Linked DNA regions of Homo sapiens: region 1 is linked to region 2. Evidence: fine-mapped expression QTL. A gene starts in region 2. The other region holds a variant in brackets. All regions are shown on one strand. Distances are between the middles of the regions.

Region 1 (5,376 bases), 22 kb before region 2:
AATATCTGTTCAGATCATTTGCCCTTTTATTTATTTATTTTATTTATTTTTATTTTTTTTGAGACAGGCTTGCTCTGTCACCCAGGCTGGAGTACAGTGGCACGATCACAGCTCACTACAACCTCTGCCTCCCAGGTTGAAGCCATTCTCCTGCCTCAGCCTCCCGAGTAGCTGAGATTACACCCATGTGCCACCACCACACCCGGATAATTTTTTATATTTTTAGTAGAGAGGGGGTTTCACCATGTTGGCCAGGCTGGTCTCCAACTCCTGACCTCAAGTGATCCACCCTCCTGACCTCAAATGATCTGCCTGCCTTGGCCTCCCAAAGTGCTGGGATTACAGGTGTGAGCCACCATGCCTGGCCCATTTGCCCATTTTTTAAATTGAATTATTTGCTTTTTTGCTATTGAAGTGTTTGAATTCCTTGTATGTTCTAGATAATAATCCCTTGTTGGATGAATAGTTTACAAATATTTTCTCTCATTCTGTTGATTGTCTTTTCACTCTATTGATTATTTCCTTTGCTGTGTAGAAGCTTTTTAGTTTGATATAATCCCATTTGTTTATTGTTACTTTTGTTGCCTATGCTTTTGAAGTCTTATAAAATCTTTTCCCAGACCCATGTCCTGAAGCATTTCCCCATGTTTTCTTCTAGTAGTTTTATAGGGTTGGGTCTTACATTTAGGTCTTTGATCCACTTTGAGTTGATTTTTGTATAGGATGAAAGTCAGGAATCTAGTTTCATGCTTTTGCATATGAATATCCAGTTTTGCCTCAACCATTTATTGAAGAGACTATCAATAAGGGTTCTTGGCACCTTTGTCAAAAAACAGTTGGTTATAGATACATGGATTAATTTCTGGGTTCTCTATTGTTCCAGTGTTCTATGTGTTTGTTTTTATGCCAGCGCCATGCTGTTTTGCTTACTACAGCTTTGTAGGATATTTTAAAGTCTGGTAGTGTGATGCCTCCAGCTTTCTTTTTGCTCAAGATTGCTTTGACTATTTAGGGTCTTTTGTGGTTCCATATACATTTTAAGATTTTTTTTCTATTTCTATGAAGAATGTCGTTGGTATTTTGATAGGAATTGCATTAAATCTATAAATTTCTTTGTGTAGTAAGATTTTGTTCTGAATGCTAAAACTGTAGGTATAAATAGGATGGCACTGCTGGCCCAGAGGAAGGCCTGATTAGCCAGGGTGCCCCCTAATAGCTCTGACTTCACTAGTACCCAACCTTCTCTCAGTACTTTGAGGGATTAAGACAAAAATATCACATCATAAGTCTGATGCTGAAACAAGTTTGTTCCTTTAATGAGATAGTTTTTGACAAATTGGATCCAACATCTCCTGTTAAAATGGAAATACATATTTAGAGTCGTGGTAGGGCAGGTAGACAAGTAACAAGCCTGAGTGGCCATCACCACATTGGTATGAATTAATTTAGGAACAAAGAAAAACTTCCTGGGAGGATATGATCTATAATGGGATGGTTGGGGGGGGGGGTTGTTAGTGGTGGTGGTAATGGGTTATTTTAGTTTTGAATGTGTGTGTTGCAGGGAAGGAAAAAGGTTGGTGGAGAGTTCAGAGCCAAAGCCATGCTGAATGACAGGTGGAAGACAGTCTGATGGATCATAGTCACTGTTCTTAAAGAATACATAATTCAGGCTTGCATGAGACAAGATGAACCACTGACATCCTAATTTCTCAAAGTAGTCATTGGAAATGGAAAGAAGAGCCAGGATTTATTGGAGGGTATATTCACACAGAAGGGGTTCATGAAGGTGAGGGACCCTTTCACCTCCCCACTGGGCAGAAAGCACTTGCCAGAAGAAAGGGTTGCAAAAGAAGGTTGAACTCAGCAAGAAAAGTGCCTTGGGTCAGTCTCTGTACTGCTAAATAGGGCCTACCACCCTACCCTGCCAATCCCTACATAGGCCCTGTCTTCAGTAAACACTAGAGTTCGCTTACCTTCCATTCCAAGAACCAATCTGACATCTGCTGTATTAGTCTGTTTTCACACTGCTGATAAAGACATACCCGAGACTGGCTAATTTACAAAAGAAAGAGCTTTAATGGACTTACAGTTCCACATGGCTTGGGAAGCCTCACAATCATGGCGGAAGGCAAGGAGGAGCAAGTCACATCTTACATGGATGGCAGCAGGCACAGAGAGGGCTTGTGCAGGGAAACTCCTATTTTTAAAACCATCAGATCTCATGAGACTTATTCACTATCATGAGAACAGCATGGGAAAGACCTGCCCTCATGATTCAATTATCTCCCACCCAGTCCCTCCCACAACATGTGGGAATTCAAGATGAGATTTGGGTGGGAACACAGCCAAACCACATCATCTGCTGTGCCTCATCCCACAGATAGCAGAGCTTCCTCCTAATCTATCAAGAGTTCAGCATTTAGTGAGTGGTCAGGATCTCACCCTTCATTTAACCAACTAACCACCACCAACCAACCACCACCATCAGAGGTGGGCCTAAGGCAGGCCTTGGGGTCTCTGGGAAGTGGGCCATGCTCAGTCTACATCCCAATGTGCTATGGCTCCTGACACTCTGAGCAGGGGCTCTCCCTTGCACACACCAAAGGAATGACTGGGCTTAAAAAACGTGCCAACTTGCTTATAAATCAGTCTCCTCAGATTCTACAATTCACCGAGCCATAAAACCTCAGAGCTTCAAAGATGCTTAGAAAATATCAAGGCCAGGGTTCCCAGGAAGCCTCAATGCTGCCATTTTACAAAGGAAGAAACTGAAGTGCAGAGAGATTAAGGGGCTTGTCCAGGTCACACAGCTACTTAGTGGTAGATCTGTAACTAGAAAGGTTTCAGTTCACACTCAATGTTCTTTCCTCTAGAATCTAACCTCTGCCCCCTTGTTATTTTTGGCATGAGAGAGGAGGATTATATTTATGTCTCTAGAAAAGCTGTGCTTTTGGATTGAATTCTGATTTTCTCTTCTCAAGTCTCATTGAGAACCACATGAAAAAACTCTGCTGGATTTGAGTTAAAAAAAAAAAAAAAAGAATCTGAAGAAAAAAATAGCAAATCTGGTATCCTAATGAGATAATGAATGCACAAGTACTTTGAAAGAGGTACAGCACTTCAGTGCTTTTCAGATATGAGGTTTTGTCATGCTCTTGAAAGAAATGCATAGGCTTTACTGACATGGGGGCTGGGGCTGGGGCTG[GGGCCCT/G]GGCAGAAATGGGGAAGCACAGGCTGTGGCAAGGGGGGTTTCTCCAGAAGGCTGACTCATTTCTTGGCTGTCCCAAGCTTAGAGAGCCAGATTTCTTAGGGTTGTTTACCACCTTAGTAAGGAACTGGTGGAGGGTTTTTTTCTGGAGTTAAGCACTGCAGGAAGAGCTGCCCACAGTATGGGGGTGGGTCATCTGCTTCTGGACTGCCCAGGCCAACTGTGGTTACCCCAGTTAACTGTGGTGAACTGTCCACATAACCAGCCTTCTGGATCTGCCTTTCAAGGAGTCCCACTGTGCTTCTCCCTGCTGAGGCCGCTGAAAGGGCATAGGCAATTGCTAGAGGTGAAGAAAAACTCTGTAGCTAAGCTATAAAAACAGGCATCCTGAATCTGGCTACATCCTGGTAATCTTGCACATAGGATGAATCCTAAGAAAAGGTGAGTCTTGTTAATGTGCACAGCACACAAGCCAGCGGGATGGCGTGCCAGTCAGCAGATTTTCAGTTTCAAGATAACTGAAAATCCATTTTTATCTGACTTAGACAAAATGAAACAAAACACCAAACCAACAAACAACAACCACACAATTTCACTGATTCGCATAACTGAAAAGTCTAAGGTTAGGGCTTGTTTCAGGCACCACTGATCTTGTGGCTCAAACTATGTCACTGGGACTTGGTTTAACCCTGTCTCAGCTCTACCTTTCCTCAGTGTTACCTTCTCTCTCAGGAGCCCTGGGGTAGCCCCCAGTGGCTGCAGGTCATCTGTAATCCCAGGGGGTCCCAGCAAAAGAGAGAGGGAATCCCTTTCAGTAATGGTCCTCCTCCCCAACTAAATTAGAGGCTTCATTCTGACTGGACCAAGTTAGAGCGCATAACCATCCCTGGGCTCTGATTGGCCAGAACAGAGTCCGGCGTTCCACCTGCCAGGTGGAAGGGTAGATCTCTCCCATGCTCACTGAGCCTGAGACAGGAGGTGGGGTGGCATCCCAAAGGAAATCTAGCATGCTGGTACCAGAACGGGGAATAGGTGCTGGGCTTGGAAAAATAACAGACAAACACTCAGTGCTACCCATTTAAGCATTTGAAATAATTTCACTTCAAAATCAGAGTGGTCGAGTCTCAGACACATGAGATTCTGTCTCAGATTTCTGGTGGCTTGAATGGAGGGTGTACAGAATCATGTCTTGATAAATGTTTAACTTCTAAGATTTGAAGTGCAGATATTGGTCTGGGTATCCCTCCTAGAAATCTTTGCATTTTCTGCATTTTCTTTTTAATATTTTATTTTTATTTTTATTTTTATTTTTTTGAGACAGTGTCTCAGTCACCCAGGCTGGAGTGCAGTAGTGCGATCTTGGCTCACTGCAACCTCCGCCTCCCGGATTCAAGCGATTCTTGTGCTTCAGCATTCGGAGTAGCTGGGACTACAGGTGTGAGCCACCACGGCTGGCTAGTTTTTGTATTTTTAGTAGAGACAGGGTTTTGCCATGTTGCCCAGGCTGGTCTCGAACTCCTGGCCTCAAGTGATCCTCCTGCCTCAGTCTCCCAAAGTGCTGGGATTACAGGCGTGAGCCACTCACTGCACCTAGCCTATATTTGAATTTTAAATAGTGATTCCACACCTTAACCTAACCATAATGGGAATTGGATTAGAGAATGGTGGGAATTTCAGACAAGTTGGTGAGGGTGAGAAGTAAGGGAAGAGAAACGTTATGGAACCTCTCACATAAAAAGTGCACAGTGGCCTACCCCTATATGGATGTGAGACTGCTCCTGATAGGAAATATCCCCAAACCCCTTGTTTGCAGTCCACGGCCCCAGTCTCAACTCCACCAAATCATGATGCTTCCCCTGAGATCATGATTGCGTTGCCCAGTTTCCTCTCTGACCAGACCTGATTCTACAGACAAAAGCCAACCTCCTCACTTCGATTCCCCTGGATCCTTTCCTCCTCTTCACATCTACAGCCGCTCTTCTAACTTCTTACTCCCGTTGCAATTCCAGATATTCCAGAGACAGGATATCTCCAAGGCACTCCAGGGCCCCAAATAACAAACCTTATTTGTTTTCCACCTCACACAATCTGAACTCTTCTGCCTGCCCTTTGAAACCCTTCGCGAACACCTCCAACCTTATTTCTTGCTCCTCCTCAATACAGCCTGT
Region 2 (5,376 bases):
TGTGATATATTGTATCCACTGTCCCACTTGTTGCTTTTTTTTTTTTTTTTTTTTTGAGACGGAGTCTTGCTCTGCCGCCCAGGCTGGAGTGCAGTGGTGCGATCTCGGCTCACTGCAACCTTCGCCTCCCAGGTTCATGCCATTCTCCTTCCTCAGCCTCCCGAGTAGCTGGGACTACAGGTGCCCGCCACCACACCCGGCTAATTTTTTTGTATTTTTAGTAGAGACAGGGTTTCACCGTGTTAGCCAGGATGGTCTTGATCTCCTGACCTCGTGATCTGGCTGCCTCGGCCTCCCAAAGTGCTGGGATTACAGGCATGAGCCACCCCGGCCTCATTTTGCTTTTTAAACGTAATGAGTTAACTTGGAGATCGTTCCAACTCAGTACAGAGAGAGTTTCCTAATTCTTTGTTCTATAGCTGCATGGCTTCCTACTTTGTGATGCCGTCCGTGACTTCCACATGAGGGACATTGTGGTCATCACTTTGAAGGCTAATCCCATCTCTACCTGTTAATTCCAAAACCTCATTCCAGCCATTATCCACCTTAATCCCTCTTGACTGTTTTGTTTTGTTTTGTTTTGTTTTGTTTCCTACGAACATGTTAGGTCTCTTATATGCTAACAGAGAACTTTCCCTTCACTCTGAAGTCCCTTAAGGCTCCCATAACCTTCAAAGCCAGACAGAGATGTCCACAGTTTCGTTCACAGCTTCCATTTCACCACCCATTCCTTCCTTGACACTGTGATATTCCTTCTTCTTCCCGTCTCAATTAAAAATGATCTCTTGGCTGGGCACAGTGGCTCATGCCTGTAATCCCAGCACTTTGGGAGGCCCATGCAGGTGGATCACCTAAGGTCAGGAGTTCAGACCATCCTGGCCAGCATGGTGAGACCCCATCTCTACTAAAAATACAAAAACTAGCCAGGCATGGTGGCGGGCGCCTGTAATCCCAGCTACTTGGGAGACTGAGGCAGGAGAATCGCTTGAACCAGGGAGGCGGAGGTTGCAGTGAGCTGAGATCAGGCCACTGCACTCCAGCCTGGGCGACAGAGTGAGACTCCGTTTCAAAAAAATAAAACTGATTTCTGGAAGATCATCTAATAGAAACATTCAGCATCTTGGTCTATTTCTCTATCCTCCCCGCACTAACATCTGAAAATGGCACCTACCTATTCACTCATTAACCTCTTGGAAAATGACTTCTGCCCACCCTACCTGCTTTATACTAAAACTGATCTCCAGTGTCACTTAACCTGTTAAGGGCCAGTAATCTCCCAGTAACCTGGCTGTGACTGCCTTCTTTAACCTCCACTCTTGGTGCTCCTGTTATGCCTGCTTGTCACCACAGCCTAGCCCTAGAGATTCTATCTTTCCAATGCCTTCCCTTCTATCCTCTCCTAACCATCTATTATTCTGTCTATTACTCCTAAATCAGTTCCTGATTTCTGATTATCTGGATGATGAGCAGCATGCTTCTAACAAATCTTTCTCTCTCCAGCCTCTTTCCCACTCCAACTGAAAACCATGGGTTTTCCATCATCCTTTTCTCCAAAACTCTTATTTCCAAGTCAATTAAGCACTAACTCCCCAATCTGATATTCAATTACTTCCGCAGTTTTAACACAATTCCACATGTAACGGCATCGGTCAGCATTATGTCCCACTGCTATTCCAAGCATACCCTGTGCTCCAGCCACAGCAGTCTGCTTATTTTGCACGAAACACATGGCGTGCTTTTGCACCTCCAGGCTTTGGTTCACCCCCTTTTTTTTTAATCCACCTGGATTATGTTTCCCCTCCGTCTCTACTATTCTAAATCCCATCCTCCCCTAATTTCACTTGCCACGCTATCTTCACTAACCTTCTACCAAACGTATTATAATTATTTGTGCGGTTATCATATTTCCACACTGGATTCTTAATTCTGCTAAAACGAAATACTGTAATGCCTTTGATGAGCCTTCCATGTGCCAGCCATGTGCTAAGTGAGCTACATGCATTATCTCATTTAATCCTCAAATCGCCATCTAGGTCAGGACTCTCCCATTTAACATTAAACAAACTGAGGCTCCGAGAGATTAAGTAGCTTGCAGCTTTCACGCAGCTAATTATGGTGGAATCAGATTCCCTCCCCGAGGTTCAACTTGTATTAGTTAGGGTAGCCAGCATAATATATTCGCCAGCTACGCTGCACTCAACCTGTGTGTGCCGGATCAGCATGTTAAAAACGGTGTCTGCAAGTAGACCAAGGGAAGAGGGGCTGCGGGGGCGGGAATTGAGACAGCAATGAATTAGGATGGCGGGATTGGCGGTGATGTTTCCAAATTTCCACTGTTGGGTTGTAGAGCTTCTGAAATAAGCATTTAAAATGTATAGTTACTAAACAAGATTGCATCTACCCTTGGTCTAATTGTTATGTGTAGGTTAGTTTTGTCTCCCTGATTTTATTGTCATCCCCCAGGGATTGTTTCTGTTCTCCCGCGTTCCCAGAGCTTTCGGCGCATTGCTCAACACACGGTGTGCGTACTTGTTGATTTTAATGTATGTGTGTTTGCATATGTGCACAGCAGCTGGGCGGAGGACGTGGGTGTGGGATGCACTGTGCATTCCTTCTCCTCACTCTTGTTCCTTTGAGCAGCTGCAGCCTGGATGCTTTCCCTTAGGGGTAGGGGAGAGGCAGAACCGCTGACCCTTTAACAAGTTATCCCTCACAGAACAGGTGTCTCCCCCGACTCTCGGTGGAGAGGGATGGCTGGATACTTAGTGACATCAGCCACGAGCCAATGGGAAGTCGGGCTCCAGCCGTCGCGCCAATGAGCGGCCGGGGGCGGGCCGGGTTTCCTGGGCGCCTGGCTGGCCGGGCTGGTCCTGCGGCCGCGGGTGAGTCTCGTCCGCTCGCGCTGCCCACCGCGGCTCCAGCAGCTCCAGGCGCGGTTCCCCGGCCCGCGCCGCTCCCGGCCCCCCGGCTCGGGCGCCTCCCGCCGCAGCGCAGGCTCCCCCGCCGGCCGGGCTCCTGCGCGGCGCGGCTCGGCTCATGCCCCCGGGCGCGGGGCACACAGGCCGGCCGGCAGCCGCTGGGAAATAGGCCCCCGGGGGCGGTGGCGGCGGCGGGGCCATGGCGCGGAGACCCCGGGCGCCGGCCGCCTCCGGGGAGGAGTTCTCCTTCGTCAGCCCGCTGGTGAAATACCTGCTCTTCTTCTTCAACATGCTCTTCTGGGTGAGTCTCGGGGTCGAGGGCACCTGGGCGGCGGGGTCCCCCCGCGGGGTGGAAGGGTGGCCCGGGGTGCCCCACGCGCGGGAGCCGCACTGCCGAGTTTTCTGGGCTGACGGCACTTTGGGGGAATTTATCCTGGGGAGGGACACCCCGGGGACGCCGCGTCTGCAGGGGGCGTTGTAGGGAGGAGGGTATGCCAGGGAATCAGTAAAGACTGATGGGTATTCTCGGGGCGTCGGAGGAGGGTCTGTGTTAGGCTAGAAATGTGGGTTTGAGGGAGCCTGTTGGCCCAAGGCGGACCCACTGACACATTCATGATGGGGGTCGGGGGTGGCGGCTGACTTTCAGGCCTGGGGGCCTGGAGGCCCGGCTGGCAAAGAAAGAAGAGGAAGGAAAAACCCAAACCTCTCTCTCCACCACCTCAGAGAGGATGGGTTACTGGCATCATCTCTTCCTTTTGCAGGCCTCATCTACCCCCACCTCCACCCCCCCAAAGTCTAGGAAGAATGGCCTCCAGGTGCAGATGTCTTTCCCATCCCAGCACTGCCCCAAACTTTGTCCCCTCCCTGCCACCCTTCTCAGGACCAGACTTCACCCCTGGAGCCTGGCAATCACCAGTGTCTTTAAACAGGACCCCGTGTTGGGCCGGAGGGCCAGGGGTCCTTTCAGAATCTTCTGCTTGGGGTGGAAAAAGTATTGGGCTGGGACTCCGGACACCTGGATTCCCATCCCACTCTGCCGTTCATTGTTGACTTGACCGACCTAAGCATGTATGTTCATGTCTGCAGGCCTTGACTCCCTCCCCCACAAATCCAACCCAGTGTGATCAGGGGTGGCAGAAAGACTGCTGAAGCTGAGAATTGAGCTGAACCAGATCATGCAATGCCAGCTCGACCCTGTTTCCTGGCTAGAGAGTCCTGGAGGTCCTGGGGTGTGAGAACATAGGGACATCCTTCCCCCATTCACCTCCTCTTCTGGCTCCTACCACACCAGAGCTGCTGCTTCTGGAGCCCACCATCCTTGCCCACTTCAGCTGGAGACCTAAAGTTCAGACTTGCAGGAGGGAAGAATTGAGTCTAAAATATGTTTCCTAGGGGAGGGAGCAGAACAGACATCTAAGCCATTTGCTGGAAAGGTTTCACAGGGCCCGTGGGGTGAGGTGCAGACACAAAGCCCATAAGTGCTGGCCTGTTGGGACAAATGAGAGAAATCCCATAGGGTGGTGATGACAGCGCACTCAGCCATCCTACTCCTGGGGAAAATGAAACTTGTGCTCCTATCAAATGCTCAGTTGTAAAACTGGAAAAAAATTTTAGAAGACATCTTGTCCAGCATCTGTGTTTATGTCTATAAAATGTAGAAAACTAAAGCACAGAGATGTTAAATGTTTTGTCCAAGGTCCAACAGCTGGTTAGCAGGCTTGGTCTGGTGACCTTTCTACTGAACCACAGTGCCGCTGGGGGAAGTCCTCAGCACAGATGGCTGCTGCTATAGCTGGGGTATGGGCAGTATTAGTAGTTAACCAGTCAACCCAAGTTCCCATAGTCTAGGTTCTGCTTCAGCTGGAGGTTAGGGAAAAACACAAGAAAATCCCTTACCACTCTACCAGTGCTGGGGGATGTACTAAGAGACTCCCCACTTAGGGGCAAGTATCAGTGAAGTCTCTGTGCTCACTGAGTGTGCCAGGCCAGTGACGTGACATCCTCGGAGCCAGCACTAGCATTTCAGGGACTTTAGGTCGTCACTCTGACTTCCTTTATCTGCCGAGACTGTCTCCCTTGGAGCCATTGGTACCTCACCCTTGTCTGTGCTCGCCAGTGACAACAGCTGGGTGCATCTGTTACACTTGTGTTCCTGGTCATTTTTTTTTTCTCGAGCTTCCCTACCCCCTACCTCCACCCTACCCCCCTTTTATCGGACAAACGACTTTGAGAGATCTCAGCCAGGAGAGAGTTTGGCTCCACAGACCCATTTACCTTGGTAAAAATGCTTCATTCAAGGTCAGAAGACGTGGGTGGCCAAGCTAGCACCACCCCAAATTAGAATAGAGCCCCTTCTTGGCCCTACAGTAGACTCATAAAAAATCAGAGGCTCTAGAAATAGCACACTGAAAGACAAGAGGCTCAGCATCTTTTTGGCACCAACTTACTGTGTGACCCT

What was found.
Region 1: its variant is fine-mapped to the expression of TSPAN33 in monocytes after Pam3CSK4 (Quach 2016, PIP 0.95).

What each region holds. Positions count from the first base shown.
Region 1 is chr7:129,119,542-129,124,917 of GRCh38, forward strand. No RefSeq gene overlaps it. Among named protein-coding and RNA genes, the nearest start is that of TSPAN33, 22 kb to the right of the region's middle. RefSeq lists enhancers at 2,694-2,863, 3,314-3,583. The variant GGGCCCT/G (reference allele first, on the strand shown) is at 3,206.
Region 2 is chr7:129,141,864-129,147,239 of GRCh38, forward strand. It overlaps TSPAN33 (tetraspanin 33), which reads left to right and starts at 2,844. Exons shown (of 8, transcript NM_178562.5): 1 at 2,844-3,219. The coding sequence starts at 3,118. RefSeq lists a silencer at 2,757-2,966.